Homo sapiens: one gene and its partners. The protein of the gene in region 3 interacts with the protein of the main gene of each other region in a pairwise test. Each region holds a gene or a part of one and is shown on either strand. Other genes may lie near its edges. The genes, in order: RASGRP4, SLC14A2, SEC22A and TMEM71.

What was found.
Region 1: the proteins of SEC22A (region 3) and RASGRP4 interact in binary tests that used the Homo sapiens proteins (3 or more experiments, as listed by UniProt).
Region 2: the proteins of SEC22A (region 3) and SLC14A2 interact in binary tests that used the Homo sapiens proteins (3 or more experiments, as listed by UniProt).
Region 4: the proteins of SEC22A (region 3) and TMEM71 interact in binary tests that used the Homo sapiens proteins (3 or more experiments, as listed by UniProt).

The regions. Positions count from the first base shown.
Region 1 is NC_000019.10:38,422,757-38,431,185, reverse strand, and holds the start of RASGRP4 (RAS guanyl-releasing protein 4), read left to right. Parts: upstream 1-4,966; 5' UTR 4,967-5,094; coding exon 5,095-5,117; intron 5,118-8,429.
Region 2 is NC_000018.10:45,667,088-45,674,721, reverse strand, and holds part of SLC14A2 (urea transporter 2), read right to left. Parts: coding exon 7,628-7,634; intron 6,890-7,627; coding exon 6,700-6,889; intron 6,374-6,699; coding exon 6,245-6,373; intron 5,417-6,244; coding exon 5,224-5,416; intron 1,823-5,223; coding exon 1,675-1,822; intron 1,040-1,674; coding exon 905-1,039; intron 1-904.
Region 3 is NC_000003.12:123,267,831-123,275,158, forward strand, and holds the end of SEC22A (vesicle-trafficking protein SEC22a), read left to right. Parts: intron 1-3,691; coding exon 3,692-3,892; 3' UTR 3,893-6,306; downstream 6,307-7,328. UniProt on the Homo sapiens protein: May be involved in vesicle transport between the ER and the Golgi complex.
Region 4 is NC_000008.11:132,722,362-132,729,995, reverse strand, and holds part of TMEM71 (transmembrane protein 71), read left to right. Parts: intron 1-1,684; coding exon of another isoform or gene 1,685-1,747; intron 1,748-2,009; coding exon 2,010-2,198; intron 2,199-7,634.

The DNA of each region.
Region 1 (8,429 bases), on a different chromosome or scaffold from region 3:
GGCTTGTGCCACCACGCCCAACTAACTTTTAAATTTTTTATAGAGGTGGGGTCTTACTATATTGCCCAGGCTGGTATTGAACTGCTGGTCTCAAGTGATCCTCCTACCTCAGCTTCCCAAAGTGTTAGGATTACAGGCAAGAGCCACCGCGCCTGGACTCGCTGTCATTTTAATTTCCACTTCCCTGATGAGTTACCAACAATTTCTAGCATCTTCTCAAGTGCCTATCAGAGTTTTGGGTTTCTTTGTTATCTGCTCATTGTGATCCCTGCTCACTTTTTTTTGTTTTTTTTTTTTGAGACAGAGTCTTGCTCTGTCGCCCAGGCTGGAGTTCAGTGGCACCATCTCGGCTCACTGCAACCTCCGCCTCCTGGGTTCAAGCAATTCTCCTGCCTCAGCACCCCCAGGACTACAGGCGCATACTGCCACACCTGGCTAATTTCTTTTGTATTTTAGTAGAGATCGGGTTTCACTGTGTTGCCCAGGCTGGTCTCGAACTCCTGAGCTCAGCCAATCCGCCTGCCTTGGCCTCCCAAAGTGCTAGGATTGCAGGCGTGAGCCACTGTGCCCAGCCTAATTTTTGTATTTTGAGTAGAGACGGGGTTTCGCCATGTTGGCCAGGGTGGTCTTGAACTCTTGACCTCAGGTAGTCTACCCACCTCGGTCTCCCAAAGTGCTGAGATTACAAGCATGTAATCTTACATTATAGGCGCAGGAGCCACTGAGCCCGGCCATTTTTCTATTATGGTTGCTGTCTTTTTCGCTTGCTGATTTGCAGCTGTTCCTTTTATATTCTTTTTTTTTTTTTTTTTTTTTAGATGGAGTCCCATTCTGTCTCCCAGGCTGGAGTGCAGTGGCTCAATCCCAGCTCACTGCAACCTCCACCTCCTGGGTTCAACTGATTCTCATGCCTCAGCCTCCCAAGTAGCCGGGATGACAGAGCAATACCCACTACCACACCCTGCTAATTTTTGTATTTTTAATAGAGACGGGGTTTTGCCACGTTGGCCAGGTTGGCCTCGAACTCCTGATCTCAAGTGATCTGCCCGCCTCAGCCTCTCAAAGTGCTGGGATTAGAGGCATGAGCTACTGCACCTGACCTATATTCTAGATATTAATATCTCATTGATTTTTAAATATTGCAAACACCTTTTCCCCTTCTGTCATCTGACATTTGTCCCATGGTGTCTTCGTTAAAAGAAAATCTGCCTGTAATCTCAGCACTTTGGGAGGTCTAGGTGAAAGGATCCCTTGAGCCCAGGAGTTTGAGACCAGCCTGGGCAACATAGCAAGACCCCATCTTTAAAATTTAAAAGAGAAAGAAAGAAGAACAGCAACAAAAGAAGAAAGTCTGTATTTGCATGTTATCATGTCCATCATTTTTCTGCCTTAGGAGTTTCTGTGGTTTGATTCAGAAGTCCCTTCCTTTGTAGTCATCAGCACGGGTATTGTGGGTATTCTTGGCCAGCCCGAGGACTAAGGCTGCCTGTGTACAGTAGAAACAAGTGCCAGGATTTCTGACCTCCTCCTTGAGGCTTTTCTGGGTCCCCAGGGCCTGGAGACACTGCCACACTACGAAGTCTCTGCTCAGCCAGGATTGTTAAGTCACATTCAAGATGCAGGTGCTACAGGAGATGGTCTGAGAGAGTCAGACAGAACACCATGAGGCCAGGGGGAGAGAGGGTGAAAACGGGCAGGAAGAGAGAGTCTGAAGCTATGGTAACATCGCGTGATGGAAAAACTAAAGACGGCGAGTTCAGTGACTGTCTAAATGTTCTGCATTGGAAAAAATATACATCCACGGTTCTTTCTTTTAGTGAAAAAAAAAGTGGAAAAATATACTTCTGAGAGAACGATTTCAATGAATTGCTAACATGCTATGTTTGGTAGAATCACAGTAACTACTATGACCCATTTATTCCACTCCTGGGTACTGCCCTACAATATGGTACACTCTATGTTCATCAAAAGTCAGATGCTCAAATAGTCACAGCAGCCCCAACCTGGAAACAACTCAGATGTCCATCACAGGAAAATTGATCAATAAATCACGGAGGCCGGGGACAGTGGTTCACGCCTGGAGAGTCAGCAATTTGGAGGCATAGGAAGGACGATTGCTTGAGCCTAGGAGTTCGAGATCAGCCTAGGCAACAAAGTAAGACCCTGTTTCTACAGGAAAATAATAAAAAAAAAATTAGCAGAGCACAGTGGTGTGCACTTGTAGTCCTAGCCACTCAGGAGGCTGAGGTGGGAAGATGGCTTAAGCCCAGGAGTCCGAGGCCGCAGTGAGCTAGGATCTCGCCACTGCACTCCAACCTTGGTGACAGAGGGAGACCCTGCTGTGGAGTCTTAATTAAGAAAAAAGAGTCAGGTTGGTAGGACCAAATAAAAATAAAAAAAAAAAACAGAGAAGCTATAAGTTTGTCTTTTTTTTACAGTCTAGGACATATAGTCCTCTTGTATAGATAACTCACTTAACTTAAAATGTTTTAGTGTCTAGTTATTACCAGACTCTAGACTGATGAAAAATAGAACTTAGTGCTGTGACTCACGCCTGTAACCCCAGCACTTTGGGAGGCTGAGGCGGGTGGATTATTTGAGACCAGGAGTTCAAGACCAGCCTGGCCAATATGGCAAAACCCCGTCTCTACAAAAATTAGCTGGGTGTGGTGGCACACACCTGTGATCCCAGATACTGGGGAGGCTGAGGCAGGAGAATCGCTTCAATCGCAGAGGTTGCAGTGAGCTGAGATCACGCCACTGCACTCCAGACTGGGCGACAGAGCAGGACTCTGTCTCAAAAATAAAAAAAAAAAATAGAAGTTAGCATGCCACCAGCCCGCTTAGTCACTATCCACAACACCTATCTCTAAATAAATAAATATATATATATAAGTCATGGAATTGTCACATAATGAAAGACTATATGGAATTATTATTATTATTATTATTATTATTATTTTGAGACAGAGTCTCGCTCTGTCGCCCAAGCTGAAGTGCAGTGGTGCAATCTCGGCTCGCTACAACCTCCTCCTCCCGGGTTCAAGCGATTCTCCTGCCTCAGCCTCCCAAGTAGCTGGGATTACAGGCACGCACCACCACACCTGGCTCATTTTTGTATTTGTAGTAGAGATGGGAGTTTCACCATGTTGGCCAGACGGGTCTCGAACTCCTGACCTCAAGTGATCTGCCCATCTCAGCCTCCCAAAGTGCTGGGATTACAGGCGTGAGCCACCGCGCCCGGCCAAAAAAAGGAATAAATTATAACCAAATATGATAACATGGAAGAACTGCAAAGACAAGACGTGGAGAGAAAGAACCCAGATTCAATACAGGAGTCCATTTTTATCCAGCTCAAAACAAGACAAAACTACTGCGCCAGACTTCGGGCGAGTGGGGATCTGTGGGAATTCGTGCTGGGAAGAAAGACAGGGGGCTTGTGGAGGGTGAGAATGTTCTGTGTCTGGATTTGTATGAATGTCACACAGGTTTGCTCAGTTGGTGACATTTCATCAACCTAAATACTTAATGATTCGTGATCTTTTTTGTACTTCAATTTAAAAAAAAGTGTCGAGCATGACACATTTAGGTAAAAAGAAAAAAATGCACACTCAAAAGAAAAGTCTGTTTCTAGGAGCACATGTTTATATGATGTGCTTAAACGCACAGACAGCAGTTTGGACGAAACTCGACAACGTGTCATATTGGTCACACCCTGCTTAAGAAAGGCAGGGGATGGGGAGGGGCTTCCCCAAGGCTTTACCTCCATCTCTAATGTTTTTTGATGTGTGTGTGTGTTTTTTTTTTTTGTTTTTTGTTTTTTGAGACAGGGTCTGGCTCTGCCACGCAGACTGAAGTGCAGTGGCACCATCATGGTTCACTGCAGCCTCGACCTCCTTGGGCTCAAGCAATCTTCTAGCCTCAGCCTCCTGAGTAGCTGGGACTACAAGTGTGCATCACTACGCTCAGCTAACTTTTTTTTTTTGAGACAGAGTTTCGCTCCTGTTGCCCAGGCTGGAGTGCAATGGCGCGATCTCGGCTCACGGCAACCTCCGCCTCCTGGGTTCAAGCAATTCTCCTGCCTCAGCCTGCCGAGTAGCTGGGATTACAGGCATGTGCCACAACGCCTGGCTAATTTTGTATTTTTAGTAGAGACGGGGTTTCTCCATGTTGCTCAGGCTGGTCTTAAACTCCCAACCTCAGGTGATCCGCCCACCTCGGCCTCCCAAAGTGCTGGGATTGCAGGAGTGAGCCACCACACCGGCCTAACGTTTTACATTTTTTGTAGAGACGGGGTTTTGTCACGTTGTTCAAGCTGGTCTCAAACTCTTAGACTCAAGCGATCCGCCTGCCTTGGCCTCCCAAAGTGCTGGATGACAGGCGTGAGCCCCTGTGAGCCCCCGTGCCTGGTCCGGTATGTAATTTTTTTTAAGGTAACAGTGGATTGTGTGAGGATTAAATGAGTTAATATTTTTAAAGTCCTTACAGCAGTGTGTGGTACACAGTAGGTGCTATGTGGAGGTTTGTTACAATAAAGTCAGAAAGTGAAAATGTTTTCCAGGGTACAAATGGTATCACTTAAACTAGGAATAAGAGACGCCTATGAAGAAATATACAAAATACTATGTCTTGTGAGTTTCCATTCAAACCTTCATGAATTATATATATGAATATGTCCTTCTAGACAGACAGACTTATCTTTTTGAGTGAGTGTGTGTGTTTTTACATAAATATCAGTCATGCTTTAAAAAGAAAAGCCCCTTCTTTTATTGAAGTATGACAGTGACGGGTCTCGACACCGAAAGATGGGGGAGATAGAGAGCCCGCCGGGGAGCTTGAGGGTGGGAGAGCCAGCGATGCCGGAAACCTCAGCAGAAGGGATCCCCGTGTGGGGGAGGGGGGCCTTCGGTCTCTCCCCAGCCTCTTCCTTCCCCCTGGCCTGAGGGTGGGTGGGGAGGGGCAGTTCCTCTTTCCTTCCCAAGCACCGAGGAGGCCCCAGCTCCCTAGGGGCTGAGAAGCTGGAGTCCTGGGCAAGGGGAGGAGCTGAGCCCTACTCTTGCAAGACCCCCGGCCTCCTCACCCCACGCGGGAAGCATGAACAGAAAAGACAGTAAGAGGTGAGAGGACCCTCCCCAGGGAGCCCGGCAGCACCCTGAGGCCTCCCTCTGCATGGGAGGGCTGGGGAGATCACTCGCCAGGGTGGCAGGATTCCTGACTTCTTTGGGATCAGGCGCAGGGGGGCCAGGTGGATGCTTCAGGGAGTCTGGAGCCAGCTACGGCTGCAGTCGCTTGTATGTGGCATCTGTACCGTGTTGTCCCTGGAGTTTGAGCTGCTCCGTGCCCCTTTTCCACTCCTCATCACCCCACCTCCATCCCTGGCCTGGGCTGAGTGTCTCTGCCCTCCCTGGGGGCTTCCTGGTTCCCCATCCCCGTGGACTGGAAACTCCAGGCTCCTGCAGGGCCTGGCCCAGGAGAGGGGAGTGTGGCACAGGGCAAGGCGACTCCCCTGCCTCTTAAACCACTCCTGGCTGTTCCAGACCCCTACAGGGGGCTGCAGGACAGGGCCTAGTGGCTGGCTGTGCGGCCGGTTCTGGAATGGGCTTCATCTCCTGGGCAAGCTGGCCCTTCTGTCCCCACAGAGGCAGATGGTGGGTGGCTCCCTAGCCTGGGTAACTCCTCCTGCCACCCCCAGCACCACTCTGATGGGCAAAGGGCTTTCCTCCCCACCCAGCAGTTTAGTGGTAGACTCCTGGCTGCCTAATTTCCTAGCTGTGTGACCTTAGGTAAGTCACTTAACTGCTCTGTGTCTCGGGTTTTTCTTCTGTCAGTAGAACAATCATATCCTCTACCTCGGAGAGGCCTGTAAGTACTCAATGAGACACTCTAGACCAGTGGTTCTCAAACTGGAGCGAGCCTCAGAACTGTCTGGAGGGCTTGTAAAATACAGGTTGCTGGGCTTACCTTTAAAGTGTTTGGTTTTTTTTTTTTTGTTTTTTTTTTTTGAGACGGAGTCTCGCTCTGCCGCCAGGCTGGAGTGCAGTGGCACAATCTTGGCTCACTGCAACCTCTGCCTCCCGGGTTCAAGCGATCATCCTGCCTCAGCCTCCCAAGTAGCTGGGACTACAGGTGTGCACCACCACACCCAGCTACTTTTTTGTATTTTTAGTAGAGATGGGGTTTCACCATGTTGGGCAGGATGGTCTCGATCTCTTGACCTCGTGATCCACCCACCTCGGCCTCCCAAAGTGCTGGGATTAGAGGCATGAGCCACCACCCTTAGCCTTAAAGTGTTTGATTTTGTAGGTCTGGGTTGGGACCTGAGAATCTGTATTGATATCCAGTTCCCAGGTGATGCTTTTGGTACTAGCTGGGTGCCCACACTTAGGGAAATGCTGACTTAGTTAGAATGCTCCTTCCTTAGCCTAGGACATATATAATACTTTAAAATGTCCCTTCTAGTAACGATGGCTCATGCCTCTAATCCCAGCACTTTGGGAGGATAAGACAAGGAGAACTTGAAGCCAGGAGTTCTAGACCAGCCTGAGAAATATAGTGAGACCCCCCCCCCCATTGACACACACCCAAACACACACACAAAATTAGCTGGGTATGGTCGTGCACACCTGTAGTCCCAGCTACCTGGGAGACTAAGGCAGGAGGATCACTCGAGTCCAGGAGTTCAAGGTTACAATGAGCTTTGATTGCACAACTGTGCTCCAGCCTGGGAGACAGAGCAAGACCCTGTCTGAAAAAGGGTAGAGGTGGGAGCCTGGCGTGATGGCTCACACCTGTAATCCCAGCACTTTCAGAGGCAAAGGTGGGAGGATCAGTTGGGCCCAGGAGTTTGAAACCAGCCTGGCCAACATGGTGAAACCCCATTTCTACTAAAAATACAAAAATTAGCTCGGCGTGGTGGCACGTGCCTGTAGTCCCAACTACTTGGGAGGCTGAGGCAGGAGAATTGCTTGAACCCGGGAGGTGGAGGTTGCAGTGAGCTGAGATCGCACCACTGCACTCCAGCCTGGGTGACAGAGTGAGACCCTGTCTCCAAAAAAAGAAAGAAAGAAAGAAAAAAGAAATCCCTGGAGAAGGTCCAAGGACTATCCTCATTTTTCCTTCGAGGAAATTGAGCCCCAGAGAAATTAAGTGACTAACACGAAGTCACAACAGCTGGCAAAAATTTCTGGATTCTACTTTCGTCTGAAGCTTGGATTCAGCAGCCTCCCTGCTCCCACCATCCTTGTCTCTCCATTACCCTCTTCCCCTATCAGGAACAGCAGCCTCTGGGAGGCACCAGGCAGAGGGAGAATTATTATTACTATTATTACTATTATTATTATTATTATTTTGAGACTAAGACTCGCTCTGTTGCCCAGGCTGGAGTGCAGTGGCACGATCTCGGCTCACTGCAACCTCCGCCTCCTGGGTTCAAGCAAGTCTTCTGCCTCAGCCTCCTGAGTAGCTGGGATTACAGGAGCCCACCACCACGCCTGGCTAATTTTTGTATTTTTAATAGAGATGGGGTTTCACCATGTTGGCCAGGCTGGTCTCGAACTCCTGACCTCAAGTGATCCACCCACCTCAGCCTCCCAAAGTGCTGGGACTACAGGCGTGAGCCACTGTGACTGGCCTCTCTTTTTAATTTTTTTATTATTATTTTTGAAACAGAAATCACTCTGTCACCCAGGTTGGAGCACAGTGATGCAGTTCCGGCTCACTGCAGCCTCCACCTCCTGGGTTCAAGCGACCCTCCTGCCTCAGCCTCCTGAGTAGCTGGGATTACAGGCGCCCGCCATCACGCCTGACCAATTTTTGCATTTTTAGTAGCGATGGGGGTTTCACCATGTTGGCCGGGGTGGTCTCGAACTCCTGGCCTCAAGTGATCCACCCACCTTGGCCTCCCAAAGCTTTGGGATTACAGGCGTGAGCCATCACACTGGTCCAAGAGCCTTGCTCTCTTGAGGGCTGTGGGAGGAAGGAGGGGAGGGTGTTAGAGACCAAACGGGAGCCCTGAGGAGGCAATTCCTGAAGGCAGGTCCTCCCATGCCTCTGCCTGGGGAGGACAGAAGAGATTCCAGGGGTCTTCTCCCGAGTCCCTGGTAGGCCAGGAGTAATCCTGGGATCTGCCAAAAGGAAGTCTCTTCCAGGATGCCCTGGAAGCAGTCAAGAGGAAGTTGGGGGCAATGCCTGGGGAAGGAGTTCTTATGATTCCCTGAGGGGTCTTGAGTGGTCCCAGGGGTCTTCTACTGTGATTCCCTGGGAGATTCAGAGCAGTCCTGAGCGGCGGTCCCCAGGCTTTTTGGCATCAGGGACCAGTTTTGTGGAAGGGGGTGGGGATGGTGTGGGGATGATTCAAGTTAATTACATGTATCCTGTGCTTTATTTTTATTATTATTACATTGTAATATATAATGAAATAGTTACGCAGC
Region 2 (7,634 bases), on a different chromosome or scaffold from region 3:
AGAATTAGTGTTAAGGTAGAGATGACGTATTTAAAGTGCCTACTTTGTGGTGGGTGTTAGGTGAATGGCTACCTTTTATTTGGGCAATATGACAGCTACTTTTTTTTTTTTTAAGTAACTACAGTGTGCTGGCCTTAGGTTGGTGTAGCAAAAAGTAATTTTAAGAAGAGCAAATGAAAAAGACAGCAGCTTTACCCTTCGTATCTTGTTTAGAGTTCGTAGTCACTGTCATAAAATGCAAAAGAAAATATATCTACAAATTATCTTAAGGAAACAAATATGTGGCCATAGCTGATCCAGAACATCTTCCCGAGCAAGAATATTTGGAAAATTTTTATTATAAATTTATTTTTAAAAATAAGTTTATATAGATAATGTTCACAGAGTCTACAGATGTATTGAAATAGAACTTCTGTTTTAAATGTTCTGCTCAAAAGGAGTTTTGTTTGGTTTCCAGTCATATAACATCAAGAAATAAAGGATGTTCAAGGATGAGGACATACAAATCTACCAACTTGTTACAGTCGATCTAATTTCCTGGGACTCTGAACAAATATATAACAAAGAGGAGTCATTTGAAGGGTCTGTGGTTAATGTTTGAATGCTTAAGGTGAATCGCTGTAGAAGACGTAAATCACCCAATTCCATATGTAACGAGTAACCTGCATAAGAGTTGCTCAGCCAGTTTGCTCCAACCCCCGCCAGGAGAGTAGCAATCACAGGAGACAGCCCAGGAACAACAATCAAACCTCCACCACCGTCTTCATGTGACTGAACGTTGAGTATTCAGTGAAAATAGTGTTTAATCTATTAATTACTAAATAACCATTAAAAAACATAAAAAAACAGTTTTATGTAAAAAGCCTTTTATAAAGGAAACAAATCCTCTGTGGGGAGTACCTACCGCAGGCGATGGCGAGGAGGTGCGTCTGCCAGGTGATGACGTAGAACATGCCTCCTATCGCTATGCATGCGAGGGTGCTGTTGAAGCCACACAGGCCGAAGTAGATGGAGTCAAAGGGCGTCGCAATAGTGAGTGCTGTGACAGAAGGCAGGCATCAGGGTTGGGTCTAGGGTCTTATGGGGCCCATCTGCTGGCCCTGAAACCTACCACAGTCCTCAAAGCCCGGAGCCAGTTATCTTCTTAGGTAGTTATACAAAAAGGACTTCTGGCTTTATTCTGTGAAAAAACATCTAAAGGAAACAAATGGCCATAGAGTCCCATGAATACTAGCAGTTAAGCTGGCATGGGTTGAAGAGATTCTTTGAGTAAGGACAGAAGTCTGATTTAAACAGTCCAGAGAATATCCTTCCCCTGCCAAGAAAGAGAACCTCTCCTCCTTCATCGATACCTTAATTCTCTAATGGAGAACGAATCTTTCTTGCTGTCATTGCAGATCACTTAACATGTAAATATACCTGGAAGAAACTTCCCCCAAACTTTAAATTTATACTAAGGTGTGAATGACTAACACCAAAGCCTTTCTTGAGGGCAGCTGTGGCTCAGGGGAGGATAAAGGGGCTAGATCAAAAACGGAGAAACAGGGTACAACAGAAGGAGGGAAAGTTCACAGGAATCAGCAGGTGGAGTGTTGAAGATGAGAGTCACCATTTTATTTGGAGCTGGCCCCAGGCTCTAACCCCCTCACAGCCCAGGGAAGTGAGGACACAGACCTGCTAGCATCCCCATGGTGGATCCAATTGCTGCATGCAAGCAAATGAGAGGTGAGGATATGAACAGAGCTATGAGGAAGATGCCTCCAGTCCAGGGGTTATCACAGCCGTACACTTGGCCAATTCCAACGGGGATGGCTCTCAAAAGCTGTAGGCATAACAGGATTACATGCTCATTATGGAGGCAAAAGAGACAACTTGACCTTGGCTGCAAGAGACTTGGCACTGAACCCTTCCCACTAACATTTTGCAATGGATGTCCAGGATTTTTGTTTCTATTCAAATAGGTTAACTTTAACAGGAACAAAAGCTTTATTATCTTAATCTTGAGTTCTTAGAACACTGATGGATTAGGATGTTGAGTTTCCTTTATTTAGAAATATGAGCGTGAGGCATTTATCCCTCAGGGAAGAGAAACTGAAAACCTTTCAAGGTAGGGTACTATTGATTAGAAAAGTAATATATGTCTGATCAAAGTTGGGGTTTAAAAACCCTTTGTGAATTTTTTTTTTTTTTTTGAGATGGAGTTTCGCTCTTGTTGCCCAGGCTGGAGTGCAATGGCGTGATCTTGGCTCACTGCAACCTCCGCCTCCCGGGTTCAAGAGATTCTCTTGCCTCAGCCTCCCGAGTAGCTGGGATTACAGGCATATGCCGCCATGCCTGGCTAATGTTGTATTTTTAGTAGAGATGAGGTTTTTCCATGTTGATCAGGCTGGTCTTGAACTCCTGACCTCAGGTGATCCGCCTGCCTTGGTCTCCCAAAGTGCTGGGATTACAGGCGTGAGCCACCACGCCTGGCCATGATTTTTTTTTAAAGCTAAAAAGATGATGAGAAGGTGAAATATTAGACAAAAAAATGGCCCTGTGTGTTTTCAAGTACAACATGTTTGGGGTGTGATTTTGTTAGTAAGGTCTGGAGGAGGAACTCGACTAGTATCTACAGGAGCGGCCAGGAGAAGGTAGTATCGCCCAGCATCTGCTATTTTGATTAATAAACCCCCAGGGCACCCTGCTTGATTCCGTGCTCCATCTATCTCTGGGGCTGGTGGGGCCTGTCTGTGAATGGAAAAACACTTGAAAAAGTCTGGTGCCTTGTGGGCACCTGCACAAAGGTCCGAGAGTTTGGGAAGAGGATCCTGGAAATGCGGGCTTCCCCAGCCACAGGGACTGTGTTTTGGAGGGTCTAGCCAAGGCCCATGGGCAGGAAGCTGAGGAGAGGCAGTGTCCTGGGGCGAGTCCCTGTATATAGATTAAGGCAAGGACGCTCTTCTCTAGAGAACTCTTCCCTCTGCGCGTGGCCGGGGAGGGAGATCCTGCAGCTCGGGGGCCCTCACGCCACAGTGAGTGTGTACAGGAGACAGGCTGAGTGGGTTAGGCTTTGGGCTTAGTCTCCTGTTACCCAGGGCAGAGAACAGAATGAGGGCTCTGGCCTCACCATGCAGGGCAAAGGGGACAGGCGAGAGAGAGTTGCACATACAGAAGCAGCAGCATGGGCAGTTTTGTCCTCAGCCAGTTGCACCCTTCAGAGGGCTCTCAGTGGTCACAAGAGCAGAGGAAGCCGTGGGGACTCAACATTGCTGGGAAGTTTAGACAATCCCTCTGAAATTCACCACTTATTTATCAGAAACTCAAGGCTCTAATTTTAAAGGTCAAAAAGACAAAACATATGAGTCATTGTCATAATCCATTCAGTTGGCCAGAAAGTTACTTCTTAAAGAATAATGCCACAAAATTGAATTTTTCTTTCCTGGAACACTGGTGGAGTGGTGGTGGTGGTGGTGGTGGGTCTCAAGTGTTTGTACAGGATTATTCATTTTTTTCCATTTCTATAAAATTTCAAAATTTCTTCTCAACTGAAACTGTGACATATAGAATGCAATATCTAAAATCTGCATTTTCTGACATCATTTCCCCATAGCATGCCACTTAGAGCAAGTTTGTCTCCAAAAGATATTAATTGGGTAGACTAAGAACGGGCAGCTTAAGAAGCTGAACTGCCAGCACAGCACCTTTTCTTGTTTCTGGTCCAAGAAGGTCCTCACACACACAAAATGATCAAGGATCCGACTAACACAAATAGTTCTCAGCCAGGTGTAATGGTCCACGCCTGTAATCCCAGCACTTTGGGAGGCTGAGGTGGCATGATCGCTTGAGGCCAGAGGTTTGAGACCAGCCTGGGCAACAATGACAAGAGCGATCTCTACAAAAAAATATAAAGAATTAGCTGGGCCTGGTGGCACATGACTGTAGTCCCAGCTACTCAGAAGGCTGAGGTGGGAGGATCCCTTGAACACAGGAGTTTGAGGCTGCAGTGAGCTGTGATTGCGTCACTGCACTCCAGCCGGGGTGACAGAATGAGACTCTATCTCTGAAACAAAAACAGAAACCCCAAAATCGAATAGTTTTCTTGCTAAATACTGGTGCTTCTCAGTGTAAATTCAGGGCTCTTTCTACTACACCACGCTGTTGCTTACTGTGGAAAGCTAAGAGAAACGAGGCATCATTATTTTAGAGAAAGTTCCTTCAACAAGCCCAAGTGATTTTGTGGTCAGATGATGAGTTGCCAATAACGAAGTCTCAGAGTGAGCGCCAGACTGTGGAGCCGTTTCGTGTAACGGAAAGTAGGAGGGCCTTGGAGAAAACGTGCCTTGTTAGATAAGGTGGCTGGCTAATAGGCACATTTCTCTAGGCTGACTTAATACTGTGAGTGCAGCTTCTTATTAATCACCTTGGCTGACTTCCAGAGGTCAGGATTATATACAGAATACTTATTAAAAAAAACTTTAAAAGCTCTGTTATATGTTTCTTAATGAAAGAACACCTGTGCTTTAAAACCAACAGCATGGTGTAGTAGAAAAAGCCCTGAGTTTACACTGAGAAGCACCAGTATTTAGCAAGAAAACGATTTGATTTTGGGGTTTTTGTTTTTGTTTTGGAGATAGAGTCTCATGGAGTGCAGTGACACAATCACAGCGCACTGCAGCCTCAAACTCCTGGGCTCAAGCGATCCTCCCACCTCAGCCTTCTGAGTAGCTGGGACTATAGGCATGTGCCACCAGGCCCAGCTTTGGTGAGTGAAGGGAATAAACTCTGGAGGTTGGAACAACGACTTCTTAAGCCAATAGATGGTAGCATGATGTGTACGACTTGAATGATTCCGTGTGATTGAATGAAAGAAAATGCACAACGCAAGCTGTAAGCCTCAAAAAGACTTTTTAAACATCCACAAAGAGCCCAGGCTGGAAGTCAGGAGGCTGAAGTTCTAGTCTTGACTTTGCTCCTCCCTAATTGGCTGTAAGACCTAAGGCAGGTCTCTTAACGTGGCCGCAGTTTCCTTCTCTGTGCTATCATAGAGTGAGACCAAAACTAGCCCTTTTTGCTCTCAGAAGTAGAAAAGGATGGCAGCTCATGAGATATATATGTAGAATGCTTGGTACTGTGTAATTGTTAAAAATTATTACTTGTGGATGTTTCTGATGTGCAAAATATGCAAATGCCAGTAACATCCAGTGTGGACAGACCTGCCCTTCCTCCTTCCATGATACGTACCAAGGGCACTTGGACCTCTGACCAGGTGATGTTGGGCATGGCGGATGCAGGCTGCAGCAGCGTTGTGGGGAAGAAAAGGTTGTAGTGGCCCGTGGCTGCCAGGTACAAAGTCACAGTGATATTGAAGGGCAGTGTGAAGACTGGGAGGTCCCACTTGCTGAAGATGGTACCCAGGGCACTGGAGAGGATGGGGCTGATGGCAGAAGCATGAGAGATGCTGGTCAGGAAGCCGCCTGGTCATAACACTAGACTGTGCTGCAGTGGGGGCTCCCTGTGCCTTCCTAGAGAAAAGCAGCCTGCTGGGTATTCTCTGGAGCCTGACTGGCCCTGAGCAGGTCTTTCCCTGGGCCTCTTCCTCCCTGCACAGTGACAGGGTGGGGCACCCAGACTCAACTTCAGAAGAAGATATAAGGCAGGCAGTCTCAGAACTTCCTTCAGGAATCCTATAGCTCCATCCCCAGGCATCAGGTTGGGGAGGCCGAGGGGAGGGAATCACATTCATTCAACAAATGTTTTTTTGAGTGGCTGTGTGCATGGGCTTTGTGGCCAGGGTGCCCTGTGTTTTCTCAACATGGGGTAGAGCAGGCACTGAGGGCTTCCCCATGGCTGGGCCTTCAGCCTACCCTGGGAGGTGGTCTTGGTCTGCTCAGGGGTCCCAAGGATTTAGAAAAGCCGGGGTAGGGGAGGGTTGAAAAGATTTCCAGAAACTGACAGGACCCTATAGTGCAGCTCTTAACCAATGTGGGCCTCAGTTTCTTTCTCTGCACTCTGGCAGGGTGAGACCAAAAACCATTTAGATCTTAAAAGAATAATAAAGGGTGGTCGCTAATGGGATACTGTGTATAGACCTAGCATGGGGCTACCATGGTATAAACTTAGTTATTAGTCCAGTGGACATTTCTGATGTGCAAGCTAAATACATGCCACTTTAATATCACGTTTAGACAGACGGTCATGGGATTGGGATGAAAAGGTTGGTGGCCATTGATATGAACCCACAACCCTTCAAAAGCAAACTTACCAAGACATGGACATGATGATGACGGGTAGCAACAGCCACCAGTAGTAGTCACCTTTGTCTGAGAACACGGCCATCAGCAGCCCCACCAGCACCCCATTGTAGCCGTGAAATCCTGCAGCGATGGCCGACCTGGCAGGAGAGGGAGGGTCAGGTGGAGCAGGGGCTTCCCCAGGGCCCTTTACATTTTCCTATTGAGTCAGATTCTTTTTATCTGGGGCCTGACTACACACGCCTTCAAATAGACCACCCTTCTGGGAGTGGGGAAGGAAGACAACCCTATGAATCCTTCATATTTCTCTAGAAATATGTTGCTATGACAAAATAACCAGGGAACAGTCATTTTTAGTTGTCAGTGTCCTTATTTTGAGGATTTCTCAGCTGGGAAGAGGAAGAATGGTCCCCATGGGGAGTGACTTCTTGGCTACATGTTTGGACCCTGAGCCTCTGGGACTTACTTGTCCTGACTCAGGATGAGGGCTGTCAAGGTGGACATGATGGTACCCAGGCAGCCTGAGATCGCCCACCAGGGGTTCTGGATGAAGAGGCCGAGGATGATGAGGATGCCGCTGAGGGGGTTGTTCACAAACATCACTTGAGATGTGCCTCGGAGGACCCAGTCAAAGAACTGGAACACTGGGGACTTGTCTGAAATGGAACCGGGGCAGGAAGTAGGCAAGTGCTCAGTGTGGGCAGCCCTGGGTGGGCAGATGGAGGGTGTGAGGGAATCTGGATATCCGAAGTGGGTTTGCAGGAAGCCAGCCACCTGCTGTCACCTGCCACCAAAGATGGTAAACAAGGAACTCAAGAGAGCATCTGACTGCCAAGAAAACTCTTGAGACCCATCACCAGCCAGATGTGACCTCCAGGTTGTTTTTCTGGCAGGGGGGATTAGGTGCCCTGAGCTGCCTCTGACCCCTGTGGTGGTACCATGAATTTTCAAGAACATGTTCTTGCTGCATAGAGGGCATTAAACCCATGGGCTGAGCTCTGGAAAGATTGCTAAAGAGAACCTATTGGCATGGTAGACACAGTTCTCCCATGAACCATCCAGATGGCGTTTTTCTAGAATGCTGGCTCTAGAATCCCAATGCGAAAAACACCTGTCTGCAATATTCAGATGGGATATTTGAGATAGCAGAAGTGTTCTGTTCAGAAATGAGAGCTCATGAGCTCACACTCTTGCATGTATTGCTATTTATAGTTCAAGAGGCTGTATGTCTGTTTTAACAGCAAAACTCCCAGCTTCCAGGAAAGACCACAGTAACAGAGTGCAGTCTAGTCTAAGTCTAGTCTATAGGGAACCCCCATGGCAATGGGTTTCCTGGGGATGGGTGGAGGTGAGTTTTTAGGGTCAGGGTCAGTGTTGTTCTCATAGAATTTTACCTTTAAG
Region 3 (7,328 bases):
AATACAGAATTCTGGATTTGGCAGTATTTTTTTCTTTCAGCACTTGAGAAATGTTCTAGTTTTTTTCTGGCCTCTGTGGTTTCTGATGAGAATCCCACTGTCTTGTTACCGATGAGAAATGAATTATCTTGTTACTGTCAAGTGAAAGTGGGTGTCCAGAGTCCCACGTGTTCTCCACTGATATCACAATAAGAGGGTAGAGGAGGGATTCATTGCCATCTAGTGGGAATGAAAGTCCTGGCTTCTACTTGCCTTTTCTGAAGCCATGCTGAAGGGTTAAAACATCTGCTTATAATGTTCTAGGCTCTCAACATTTGATGGTGTGGGTATGGGTGGGTCACAGGGGTTTTTTGTGTGATGTTTGGCTAGAGGATAATAGTTACTGTTTAAAAGTTTTCTGTCTTGCTAAGGTGCCTCTTTCCTGGTCTTTTACCAGAGAGAGCAAGATGTTATTGAGGGTCTTTTTTGTTGTTTGTTTTGATATGCATGCCTTGGCATTTCTAGTTGCCAGCTTCTTCAGCTCCAAGTCTGGGATATATGAAGCAAAAAAGAAAACTCAGAGAACCTACCACTGTGGCATTCTTGGATCTCAAGATTCTTTATTTGTCTGCTTTTCCTCCACAGTTCAGAGTCTTCTTATGCTTGTTTTACATATAATGTCCAGTGTTTTTATTTGTACTTAGTGGGAGAAATAGGGAAAAGTGTGTCTACTCCATCTTCCCAGAAACAGAAGTCCCTGAGCCGTTGTTTTTAAAGTAAGTTACAGACATCATGATATTTTTTACCTTAAAATACTTCATGATGTATCTTCTAAGAATACAGACATCTGTCTACATAGCCAGGACTTCATATCACATCTAAGAATTTAACATTGATACAATATTATCTAATATATGATTCCTATTCAGATTATTTCTGTTGTCTCCAAAATGTTTTCTGTGGCTATATTTCTCCTGATCCAGGATTATGCATTTCATTTGATTGTCGTGTACCTTTTGATCTATGATACAGTCTCCCAGCCTTTTTGTTGTTGTTCTATTTTAGTTTGGTTTTATCTTTCTTAACATTGACTTTTTTAAGAGTTCAGGCAAGTACCACAATCTGGATTAGTCTGTTACTCGTGATTATATTAAGGTTAAATATTCTGGCAACAGTGCTGTATAGTATAATATGCTGAATATCTCTCATTGCTTCAGTCAGGAAATGTGATAAGTTTGATCATTTGGTTAAGATGGTGTCTACCAGATCCCCATTGCAAAGATATCTTTTTCTTCTTTGTAATTAATAAGTAATATGTGGGGTAGAGACCTATTATTTTAAAAGCCTTGGAAAACCTTGAATTAAATATATGTGTGTGTGTGTGTGTGTGTGTGTGTGTGTGTGTGTATATATTACTGGAAATGCTAGCTCATTTTTACAGTAGCATTCCAAGCAATAAATATAGATAAAAAATGGAAATATAAAATCACCATTAAGCGAACACCACAGTAATCATTGTTGCAGGCAAGAATCATTAATGGATACTAAAATTAATGAGCAAAAGTATGATGAGATAAGATATTCACATAATCTCAACTCCCTGCCCCCAAGACAATAATTGCAAAGGGAATAGATACCACCTTATTAAGTGATCTAATTTAATATGTAATAACATGTATTGCGTATCACCTCTGATATTCTTGCCAAAATTGTATAACCTCATTTCAATCTTGACAAAACATCAGACACACCCAAGTTGAGGGACATTCCTACAACATAACTGATTAATACTCTTCAAGACTGTCAAGGACATGAATTTTTTTTTTTTTTTTTTTTTTTTTGAGATGGAGTCTTGCTCTGTTGCCCAGGCTGGAGTGCAGTGGTGTGATCTCGGCTCACTGCAACCTCCGCCTCCCAGGTTCATGCCATTCTCCTGCCTCAGCTTCCCGAGTAGCTGGGACTACAGGCGCCCGCCACCACACCCGACTAATTTTTTGTATTTTTAGTAGAGACAGGGTTTCACTGTGTTAGCCAGGATGGTCTCAATCTCCTGACCTCGTGATCCGCCTGCCTGGGCCTCCCAAAGTGCTGGGATTACAGGTGTGAGCCACCATGCCTGGCCAAAAATTTTTTTAAAAAAAGATGGAGGAGCTGTTACAGATTGGAATATACATGACAATTAATGCAATACAGAATCCCAGATTAGATTCTGGACCAGAAAAAGGACCCTAGTGGGACAATGGGCAAAATCTGAATAAAGTCTGTAGATTAGCTAAGAGTATTGAATCAATGTTCATTTCCTGGTTTGATGATTATACTATGATTACATAAGAGGATAACGGGGAACAGGGTGAAGAGTATACAGTAAACAAAGCGTATACAATAAACTGTTTTTGCATCTTTAACTCTAAAATTGTTTAGAAAGAAAAAGCTATTTTTTTCTATTTTTTCAGTCTTATATGATGAAAATCACTGATAAATACTTCCAATTCATTTTGCTTGGATAGCAGTCTTCTTTTTAAGTAAACAGTCCAAATTTGCATAAGAACTAAACATATTTAACAGAACATTTCCACATTCTTTCTGCATTATAACAGACACTGGTGTGTCCTTCCCATTCTGAAGCCTGGACACAGTTTCTCAGAGAGACCTGGGCCTCTCTCTTAGACTTTGTGGTTCCTATACTTACCAGGTTGTGAATTTTAGACATCTTCTAGAAAACAGTTTATTCACTCAACACATTGAGCACTTACTATGTCCCAGGCACTGTTCTGGGCACTGGAGATAAATGAGTAAATAACAGTAAAAAATCTCACCCCTCATGAAATAGATTCTGTTGAAAGCCTATGGATGACAAACAAAATAAGCACATTTCTCAAGTATGTTTATAGTATGTTGTGGAGAAAAATAAAGCAGTAAAGGGTGAATGCCAGGATGGGCAGGAGCGGTGAGAGGGGGAGTACTTTCTTGACCGTTTCATCTAAAATAGCACCCACTATCATTCTTACTCCCTATCCCTTTTTCCTGCTTTCTCTTTTTCAAGACATAACTGTTTGATATTATATATTTAAAATACATTTATAATTCTTCCCCATTAAAATTTAATATTTATATGAACAAGGGCTTTGTTTTACTTACAACTGAAGAACAATGCCTGACTTGTAGCAGGCCCTGAGTAAATATTTGTTGAATGAATTCTCCCTCAAATGTTCAGTCAGATGCTGTACCTAGCATAGTTCCTTGTACTCAGTGGGCGACTAGTAAAATGTTGTGGATTTTGTTAATACTCAGACTCAGGTTATATTAAGAGTCCATTTTGTAGAATAGCTTGTATGTGCTTTTTTGTATTTTCCTGGGTGAGAATGGAACACCCGCAGACCCTGGGAATGCTTCTTAGTTGCCTGTCACCATGGGGAATTTGCTCAGCCTGTTTGCAAGGAAGTCATTCCATTGTACTTCCATTTAAAATATGATACAAAATGCTTTTCTTCTGAAAAATGAAAAACTTAAGAGGAAAATCTATTTCCCTTTCAAACTGTGAAACTTTCATAGCTGAATGTCTTAGATATATGCTACATTATCTTATCCCTAGATAAAAAATAACCTTATCCATTCTTATATTTTACTCTCTGACCTGTTACAATTTTATATTAGAAACATCTGTTTCTTTTCCTGTAACCCTAATCATCTTTCATTTTTATATTTTGAACAGTGTTATTTACTTGTCTACTACACCGGCTGGCGGAATGTCAAATCTTTTTTGACTTTTGGCTTAATCTGTCTATGCAACATGTATCTCTATGAACTGCGCAACCTCTGGCAGCTTTTCTTTCATGTGACTGTGGGAGCATTTGTTACACTACAGATCTGGCTAAGGCAAGCCCAGGGCAAGGCTCCCGATTATGATGTCTGACACCATCCTTCAGATCTATTGCCTTGGCTTCAGGGGGATAAGGAGGGAACATATCATAACTGCACTGTGATGAAGAAGCTGTTCCCCACAGAGGAGAAGCTCTGCTTTCTTTCTCTCCAACTTTCCTTTTTTAAAATCAGCATGATGTGCCTGTGAGCATGGAAGAGTCCTCTCAGAAGAATGTTGGCCATGAGACTATCATTCAGAGGAGGAGGGGATTTCTCTCTTCAAGGCCGTAACAGTGGAAGAACAGTCATATGCCATTGGAAGTCTTGGCCAGCAGTCCTGAATCCTTCCTGAAGAGTTCAGAAAATAGATGTGGTATTGCTCTGAGGACCAGGCAGGAGGAACTCTACAACCTGAGTTTGCCTTTGTGAGGCATTAGTATAGACCAAATAAAAAGCTGCAGAAATTGGAAAGTTTATGTTTTAAATAAATGACTGTGATAAATATCAGATTATTTGCACACTTATGGTACTACGAGTTTATAAAGTCCAAGATGGTGTGAAATTGGTTCTTTTTACTTTTATATTTTTGCTTGAATCTTAACTCTGGAAATCACCTGATGTAGAAGAAGACTGTGATGAGCTCGTCTGTGGAACATCACAAGTATCGAAAATACAGTAATGGATGTTTCCTTTCTAATCCACATTTATTGTTTCTTTTGAAATCACGTCTAAAAAATATGACTCACACTATAGCCGTTGTTTCCCAAACTTCAGTCTCTTTAGTACTACTTGTATTATTTTCTTAATATTTATCTTTTAAATTTTAAAGTTTTTTTAAAAAAATGAATCCTGCTCCAAGTGGAAAACCAGTATCAGTTTGCCATAAATAAAAGGTAACCACAAAATAAGTAAGATGAACACAAAAAATGTTGTTCAGTTCTAGCTAGAAACTAATGCCTAGAAAGGCTCCGAATCTTAGGCTCTTTCTTTGTGGCAGTGAGGGAGATGTTACCAGCACCAGCATGAGGCACTGTCTCTGGAATAGTCAGAGGATAAAAGGAAACTGTAAAGGGAATGACATTCTCACTGTGATTCAGCATTATTCTATGTTGTGCATCACTTAAAGACATGTTGTGTGCCACCAGTGGCATGGGTCCGCACTATGGAAATGCTTGACTGTAGTAAGAATCAGAAGGTGGCTTTCCTAGCAACTCATTATTTTATGGCTTTGAGGAATTAAGCCCCTAGTATCTGAGAGAACTTACTTGTTTTTTGATAACGTTTTAAAGATTGTTTAAGCAGTTATGAATTAATAATATAGGAAGCACAGTTGGATTCCACTAGCAAAATCTATAACTCTCATGGTTTTGGAAGTCATCTTCATGGGTGATTTTCCTTTGTTTTTTAAAGAAAATATTTCAAACAAGGAATTCATAGGATACTGAAATTTGATATCATCCAGAAAAACAGATCCCATTACATTGTAATTGTTGTTACTAGGCATATTTATTAAGTAGAGAAATAGAGGGTAAAAAGTTAGTGAACTGTCTTGTTTGCGTGAACCAGTATTTGTGGATATGTCTAGAACTGTAAAATCTTGCTTAACTAGAACCTTAGTCTGCACCCTCCTTTTAGGAGAATGAGGTAAAAGGAAGACAATAAGCTTATGATATCAGGGATTCATGTAAAACAGGAAATAGTAGTTGGCTCCAGTCTTCTCCTCTAACAAAAGTATGCATATTCTGAGAGATACCCCAAGGCATCACAAGATCCTGAATCATCAAAACACCATTGAATTGTGTTGGGCATTTTGTAGCCAGGAAAGTGAAGTGGTTCAATTTAGAAAGGGTTTCAGGCCAGGCACGGTGACTCAGGCCTGTAATCCCAGCACTTTGGGAGGCCGAGACAGGCAGATCACTTGAGACCAGTAGTTTGAGAATCAGCCTGGCCAACGTGGTGAAACCTCATCTCTACTAAAAATACAAAATTTAGCTGGGTGTGGTTGCGCGTGCCTTTAGTCCCAGCTACTCGGGAGGCTGAGGCAGGAGAATCGCTTGAACCCAGGAGGTGGAAGTTGGCAGTGAGCCAAGATCACGCCACTGTACTCCAGCCTGGCCAACAGAGCGAGACTCTGTCTCAAAAAAGAAAGGTTTTCTAAACTAATGGTTAAAACAGAATTTTCTTGTAAATAGGGAAGTTGGAGCATTCTGGTTGAGATTTTGCTCTGTATTGACACAGCTCGCACCAGTTTGGTTCAGGAGCTACCTCCTTGTCATTGAATTGACGAGTTACAATGTTTGGTATTCGGATACATTCAGCAAGAACACTTGAAAACTCCTCACCAACTATTTTTAAAGGCTTACTTTGTTTTTGTTTTTATTTTTTCACTGGCTATTTTGGATAAGAGGATGTTTACATCTTAATGTAAAAAAATGAAAACAGGTATAAATGTTTTATGTATAGAAATGTTTTCTTTCATTATTTGGTGCCTGTATCTCCGTGTTTATATCATTTCCCCACCTGTATCATTGCTGCCAAAAAAAGAACTTTGAATTTAGAAAAAGAAATTGGTGTAAAGTCCTGGCCGGGCACGGTGGCTCATGCCTGTAATCCCAGCACTTTGGGAGCTCAAGGTGGGTGGATCACGAGGTCAGGAGTTTGAGACCAGCCTGGTCAACATAGTGAAACCCCGTCTCTACTAAAAATACCAAAAAAAATAAGCTGGGCGTGGTGGCAGGCGCCTATAGTACCAGCTGCTTGGGAGGCTGAGGCAGGAGAATCGCTTGAATCCAGGAGGCGGAGGTTGCAGTGAGCCGAGATCACACCACTGCACTCCAGCCTGGGTGACGGAGTGAGACTCTGTCTCAAAAAAAAAAAAAAGTCCTTAGGCTCTTTAGAAAGAATCACTTTAGGCCTCCATGGTGTATGATCTTCTGTTTCTATTGCACTTCTAAGAGCAAGCCTGAGTTTACCTCCTCATAGTTTTGTAGCATAGGAGCAGTAGTAGCTGCCCTCACTCTAAGGGGGAGGACACAGAGGTGATCAGATGGTAATGACTTAGCCAGTTCACATAGCTAAGCACACACAACCCTGATCTAGTGCAGGGCTCTTCGCACTAGCATGGAACTAGTGAAGGTGACCAGTGTTATATTCAGGGAATATGACTGTTCTTGGTAAAGCCAAGGAGTTGAGGGGTTCTGAAATTGGTGAGTCCAGGCCTGCTGCTGGAGTATTTTATCCTAATAGGTGTATTTTATTTTAATTTAGATAATTCCTAAATACTGCTTTTTGATTAAGGTGTACCATGAGAGCGAAGATACCCTCTTTTATATACTAAGATAATTGCAATATTTGCTTGCTTTTTTCAGTCTGTATTTGAAATATATTTACATTAATACCTGGCCTCTTTCCCAAAAGCACTTGAAGCAGCATACCAAGAAAAGACATATACAGCCATGTTAATGAAATATGAACAGAAAGGGAAGAAA
Region 4 (7,634 bases), on a different chromosome or scaffold from region 3:
CAAGAGCAAAACTCCGTCTCAAAAAAAAAAAAAAAATTTAACTGAAAACCCACTTACTTATAAAGTGTTGGCGGAGACATTTTCCTCCCACCCACTACATAGGCCAAAACAGATAAGCTTTCATGCCTTCTCCTAGAACTAGTGGGCAGATTTTTTTTCTTAGCCATCCTTTCATTGAGGAAATAGCATTTTGAGTCCCTACAGAAACTCGGTTTTAATTTTCTGCCTCTCTTGAGACCAAGGCCTTTTTTCTGTCCCTAATGTCATTTAATCCATAGACCTTTGACTACTATGACTTCTAAGGCCCTCTCCCCACCCCTTTTGGCAGCTTTGTCCACAGCGTATGCTTAGAGTTATAGGTTTCCCTGGCTTGGCCTTTGGGAATATTTCCTTCTTTTGAGCTCAGCTATAAAGAAAAGTACATTTGTTGGGCATGTGCAGTCCCTTTTAGATGTCAGCTTAGAAAACACCTACATCCCAAAGCAGGACTCTGGCTACTCTTTCTGAGTGGCTTTGCTTCCAAGTCAATGAGCTCTAAACTGGCACGAATTCTTACCCAAGATCATAAGAGTAAAGTTAAACCCTGGAATGTGACACAGACCACTCAAGACAGAACCAAGAGAATTCCTAGGTACATTTATGCCAGGTGAGCCAAATGGGAGACTTCCAGTGGTTGAGTCAGAGGTGTGGTGCTTAACTATCCCTGTGGTTGAAAGGCATTCTTAACACATTCATCCTTTCCAAGGAAGCTTTGGCTTATAGAGTTTTGGATCCCCTAATCTCTGACTCAAACTAAGAATCAAGGATTAAAATTCATTCCTTGGTGACCTCACATTGAAGACACCAAGTGTTATGAGGAATCATCTTAGCATGTTTGAAACTTGAAGTTGCATGCATGCTTTTGCAATAAACTTGACTTTTTGTGAGAATGTCAGGCTAAGTTTAGGGCAAGTAAAATATATTTATGTATGAATCATCATAGGAGAAAATGGGTGCATGTTCTTGAAGCTATGTGTGTATGAAATAGCCTCTTTGAATAAAAAAATTTAAACAGATGGTTGCTATATTTTATCTAGGCATTTCAATGTATTTTATAGAGGCAGAATTTCCTTCATGACACTTATCACAAGATATTTTCTTCCCTGCCACTCAGCAATATGTAAGGACAGAGATGTTGTTCTAATTCACCACTATATCCCAGCAGCTAGGTCAGTTTCTAATATATAGTCACATTCAATAAATGTTGAATGAATAAATGAATCAGAAGTAGAAAGAGTTGACTGCTGTAAAGTTTGGTCCTATAAAGATGTGAGGTTCATATACTGACTACATATCCTTTAAATCCATCTATACAAACTTCAGTGTCATTGAAGATGCCTCTGGCCTTTGTTTATCTCTGCACTGAAGATATTTCTCTTCAACCTTCAAGTATGAAGACAAATTGAAATGCCATTTGAAATGGTTTGCCTGTGTCCTCACCCAAATCTCATATTGAATTGTAGCTCCCACAATTCCCACATGTTGTGAGAGGGATCTGGTGGGAGGGTATTGAATCATGGTGATGGGTCTTTCTCATGCTGTTCTCATGATAGTGAATAAGTCTCATGAGATCTGATGGTTTTACAAGGGATTTCTCTTTTCACTTGACTCTTATTCTCTCTTTACCTGCCACTATCCATGTAAGATGTGACTTTGCTCCTCCTTGCCTTCCACCATGATTGTGAAGCCTCCCCAGCCATGTGGAACTGTGAGTCCATTAAATCTCTTTTTCTTTATAAATTACCCAGTCTCAGGAAAGTCTTTATCAGCAGCATGAAAACAGACGAATACATCATCTCATCTCATCCAAAAATCCTTCTCCCATCCCACTATGGTAGTGCAATACCGTATCAATATTACTATTTTTGTGATTATTAGGAACTAACTGTGCATTGAGCAGTCACTGAACACACACACACACACACACACACACACACACACACTCACACTGAACCCCTCTGCTTTTTCAGCAGATGATTTAGACTGTTCTTCTCTGACTGATGACTGGGAGTCAGGGAAGATGAATGCAGAGTCTGTGATCACCTCCTCTTCCAGCCACATCATATCTCAGCCTCCTGGAGGAAACTCCCATAGCTTGTCTCTTCAGTCCCAGTTGACAGCTTCTGAACGTTTCCAAGAGAATAGTTCGGATCATTCAGGTGAGTTCAGGTGTTTTAAATATTTGCCACACCCAAAGAATTCTTCCTTTCAGAGCCTGAGAATGACTTGGAGATGACTAAAATGCAGTTAGGAGCTGGTACCAACCTGTGCGAGGAAGGGAGGACATGGGGCCTCTGCCAAAGCCCAGGTGACCCTTTGCAGAGGAGATGACTGCCTTTGGGTGTCATGTTAGAGGCATCAGTAACTGGATCTGCAGTGTTTTACTTAAAAAATATTCAGAGACCGGGCACGGCAGGTCAGGCCTGTAATCCCAGCACTTTGGGAGGCCGAGGCGGGCGGATCACAAGGTCAGGAGATCAAGACCATCCTGGCTAACATGGTGAAACACTGTCTCTACTAAAAATACAAAAAATTAGCTGGGCATGGTGGCGGGTGCCTATAGTCCCAGCTACTCGGGAGGCTGAGGCAGGAGAATTGCATGAACCCAGGAGGCAGAGGTTGCAGTGAGCTGAGATCGCGCCATTGCACTCCATCCTGGGTGACAGAGCGAGACTCCATCTCAAAAAAAAAAAAAAATTCTGAGAATATTTTGTAAAATGTTAGGCTTCAATAAAGCAAAGTGGAAGATACACAGATGTTTGCTATTTTAATTCTTAGCTGTGTATTGGACATACTACATAAGAAGGCACAGTGGCTCACACCTGTAATCTCAGTATTTTGGGAGGCTGAGGCGGGTGGAACACCTGAGGTCAGGAGTTTGAGGCCAGCCTGGCCAACATGGCAAAAGTCCATCTCTACTAAAAATAGAAAAATTAGCTGGGCATGGTGGCACATGCCTGTAATCCCAGCTACTCTGGCGGCTGAGACAGGGAGAGTCACTTGAACCTGGGAGGTGGAGGTTGCAGTGAGTCGAGATCACTCGAGATCATACCACTGCATTCCAGCCTGGGTGACAGAGTAAGACTCCAAAAAAAAAAAAAAGAAGAAGAAGAAGAGGAAACAACAAAAAGAACATCCTTTAATGCTATGCTTCTGACAAGGAAAAGTCAAAAGATAATAAAGGCATTGGTATTTTCTGGCAGGAGCAAAGCTGTAATAAATTCAACAAGCATGTCCCTTAGTCTCTGGTTTGCTAATGTCAGATTAAGCATGTTTGGACATGGTGCTGCACCAAGGTGAAAGAGCCCACTCTGTCATTGGCTTGCTGAGATTAAAAGCCCAGATCCCTACTCCTTAGCTATAACTCAGAAGCAGTTTACCAAACCCTCTCAAACTTCATTTTTATCTCTACATGGAGAGGATCATAATTCCTACCTTGTCATGACTAAAATAACTCATGTAAAGTACTTAGCATACTATGTCATGTCTATTGAATACTCAGTAAATGTGAAGTTATTGTTACATAACATTGAAGTTAAATGGAAAAAATATTTTCTGTTTATTTGCTTTCAAAAAATCATAAATATTCACTTCACTGGCCATCACTCTTCTAGTCCTGAAGATCAATATGCTTTGTACATTTTGTTCCTAGTGCAGCTACTAGATAAGTGTTCAAGGGTTTTTTTTGTTTTGGTTTGGTTTTTGTTTTTTTATAGTTCCCTTTCCAGGTGTTGAAATGACAGGTTATCAACACCTAAGAAGGCTCAATAGCCACCTCCTCCAGGGAGCCCACCCTTCTTGGTGCTCCCCTAGCTCCCAGGACTTCTCTTTCTCATGCCCATTATTTGCACTGTCACTGCATGTTTGCCTCTGTGAGCTCCTTAAAGATAAGCACTAGGTCATTGTCATCTGTGAATTCCAAAATGCCCACATAGGCACAGAGATGATGCTTCATTACTGGTGGACCAATTAATAAGTGTGCTACCTCCATTTTACACATAAGAATATTCAGATTCAGACAGGTAAAGTTAACCTTTGTACTCTTTGCCAAGAGTTTTGTAAGAACAAATATAAGCTCTTTGCTGGGTCTGGAATCTCTCTCCCACCTGCTATACCTGGGTGGCCTCCTACTCTTCCTCAAGTCTCAAATTAAATGAGACCACCTCTATGCACCTTCTCTACCCCCTTCTGGCTGGTGGAGGTAGCGCTTCACTTCGCCTTGATTCCCTAGCACTCTATATATCACTATAGAAACTGTTTATTTTCCTCTTTCTCACTAAGCTATGAAGTCCTGGGTGGACAAGGTCTCCATCTTCCATTAAGCCCTTCACATGTAGGTATTGCATGTGTGTTCTTTTCCAGGTGCCAAAGATATAGGCAGATACATCAGTTGTATCAGTTGAAGATTTTTGAGTTCCAATGGATGGAAACCCAACTCAAAGTGGATTAATCAATAGAATTTATTGGCTCATCTTAATGAAAATTCCAGGCTTACAGTGCAGGATCCTGGCATTCTCTGTCTTTTGTTGTCTCTTCTCTTCTGTGTCTGTGTTACTCTTTAAAAGGTTGTACCAGACCAGCCTGGGTGACATAGTGAGACCTTGTCTCTACAAAAAATACAAAAATTAGTCAGTCATGGTGTCTCATGCCTGTAGTCCCAGCTACTCAGGAGGCTGAGGTGACAGGATCGTTTGAGCCCAGGAGTTGGAGACCAGCCTAGGCAACATGGTGAGACCCCATTTCTACAAAAAATTATCTGGGCATAGTGGTGCATGCCTGAATTTCCAGCTAGCTGGGAAGCTGAGGTGGGAGAATCACCTGAGCCTAAGAAGTCAAGGCTGCAGTGAGCCAAGATCATGCACTGCACTGCAGCCTGGGAAATAGAGTGAGACCCTGTTAAAAAAAAAAAAGAAAAAAAAGAAAAGAAAAGAAAAGAAAAAAAGGCCCTCCATACATGGTGGATCCTGGTGGCTCTGTGCCTACACCTTTCCAGTTTCCAGTTCTGCAGAAAGAGATTACATCTGTCTAGGCTAATGACAAGAGGCCAGTAATTGAGTTTTATTGGTTTTGGAAGGGCATGTTTCACATGAACAAAACTTTGTTGATAAGTATGTGTGCTGCAGAAAGTCAGGGACCCTGAATGGAGGGACTAGCTGGAGCTGCGGCAGAGGAACATAAGTTGTGAAGAGTTCATGGACATTTATCACTTCTCTAATAATGCTTTCATAATTTGTTATGCCTCTCTTTATTTTAATCTCTTAATCCTGTCATCTTCATAAGCTGAGGCTGTACGTCACCTCAGGAGCACTGTGATGATTGCGTTAACTGTACAAATTGATTGTAAAACATGTGTGTTTGAACAATATGAAATCAGTGCACCTTGAAAACCAACAGAATAACAGCGATTTTAGGGAACAAGGGAAGACAACCATAAAGTCTGACTGCCTGCGGGGTCGGGCAAAAACAGCTATATATTTCTTCTTGCAGAGAGCCTATAAATGGATGTGCAAGTAGGAGAGACATCGCTAAATTCTTTTCCTAGCAAGGAATATTAATATTAAGACCCTAGGAAAAGAATTGCATTCCTGGAGGGAGGTCTATAAACGGCTGCTCTGGGAGTGTCTGTCCTATGCCGTTGAGATAAGGACTGAGATATGCCCTGGTCTCCTGCAGTACCCTCAGGCTTACTAGGATTGGGAAACCCCAGCCCTGGTAAATTTGAGGTCAGACCGGTTCTCTGCTCTCGAACTCTGTTTTCTGTTAAGATGTTTATCAAGACAGTATGTGCACCGCTGAACATAGTCCCTTATTGGGAGTTTCTGATTTTGCCCTGTCCCTGTTTCCTCAGAAGCATGTGATCTTTGTTCTCCTTTTTGCCCTTTGAAGCATGTGATCTTTGTGACCTACTTGCTGTTCTTGCACCCCCTCCCCTTTTAAAATCCTCAATAAAACTTGCTGGTTTTACGGCTCAGGTGGGCATCACAGTCCTACCAGTATGTGATGTCACCCCCGGCAGCCCAGCTGTAAAATTCCTCTCTTTGTACTCTTTCTGTTTATTTCTCAGACTGGCTGACACTTAGGGAAAATAGGGAGAACCTACGTTGAAATGTTGGGGGTGGGTTCCCCTGATATATGTGAAACTCCGAAAAGCTTGAAAGGAATCAAATGCTAGGAGGAAAGTCAGAAAAAATCAGTCACTTCACCTAAACTGTGTACCAAGAGAGGGGGAGAGGTGATTCCTCAAGGAAAATATGAGCACTGTCCCCAGAGAACAGGAAATCAATGCTATTTTCTCAATGAGCTTGCAGTTTAGTGGGGGAATATTGAGAAATATTATAGAATTTTTAATTCCATGTGAAAAGAGAGTTAGCAGAGATATGAACAAGGTATAATGGGAGCACAGGGAGGGAGCAGCTAAGGGCCAAGGAGGAGCCAGTAGAATCAAGGTAGGCTTCCTAAAGGAGGTTACACCTGAGCTGAGCTGAAAAAGGTATTCAGCAAATGGCAACTTAAGGAAGGAATCCATGAATAATTCATCCCAAATCACACAACTCATATCTTTGTAGATCTCAAATCTAAACCCATTCATCCTTCAGTATCCAAGTCTAGTGATCTTTGCAGTTTTTCAAGCTAGATTTGTTTCTGAGGAAATGTTTTCCAAATTCCACATGAAATCAGGGGAGGCTAAGAATAGAAACACACTTTAGAAGGATGGTTGAGTATTCAGTTGAACCCACAATAACTGAATTCACAATGTACATGAACAACTGTACATTTGCAGTGACATAATTTACTACTGTGATATTTTGAATTGCCAATCTTCAGCATTCCACCCGCATTATGGGCTAAGTAGGTTTTGTTAGCTGACTCAATCCTCATTCATGGCATAAATAGCAAAAATAAATGCATTCATAACATAAAGTCATTCCAAGTTTTAAACAACTGTTGCAAAATTGAGCTTTTGAAGCATTTGGCAAAAATTAAGTTGAGGTCTGTTTATATTCTCCTTTAGGTTTTTTATGTGGTAATCCTCAAATCAGCTTTAATTTATTTAAGGTGATTAGAATAATACTGAGGTTCATGATTGAATTAACTCTTATGCTTATAATTGCTGGATAATTTGTAGTTTCTACTGTGGCTTGGCAGTACTGAAATATTGTACTGATTGCAAAGAGTTTTCAAAGACAAATATTTCATAATATATGTTCTCATTTTTTGTCTTTAGAGACTTCCATTATGCAAAGTTGCAATTGTCTTTCCCTGCCCACTTCAGACAAAATGTTATGTTCTGTCTAGATGTGGTTTTTAAATCTTGGCTGTGACACCTCATAGCTATGTGACCTTGGACAAGTTCATCATTTCTCTTAGTCTTTTTCTTCTCTTTGCAGAACTAAGATAATGGCATCCACCTCACAGCGTTGTTGTGCTGTTTAAGTGAACTAACGTATACAAGCTCTTTGTGAATTATAAGGCACTTTACAGATTTTAGACATTATTATTATCACAATGACAGAATTAGATTTCTTACATTATCATAAACTCTACAAAGCCTTTCCCCAACATTAAATCAAAAGGCAAGCCCTAAACTGTGAAAA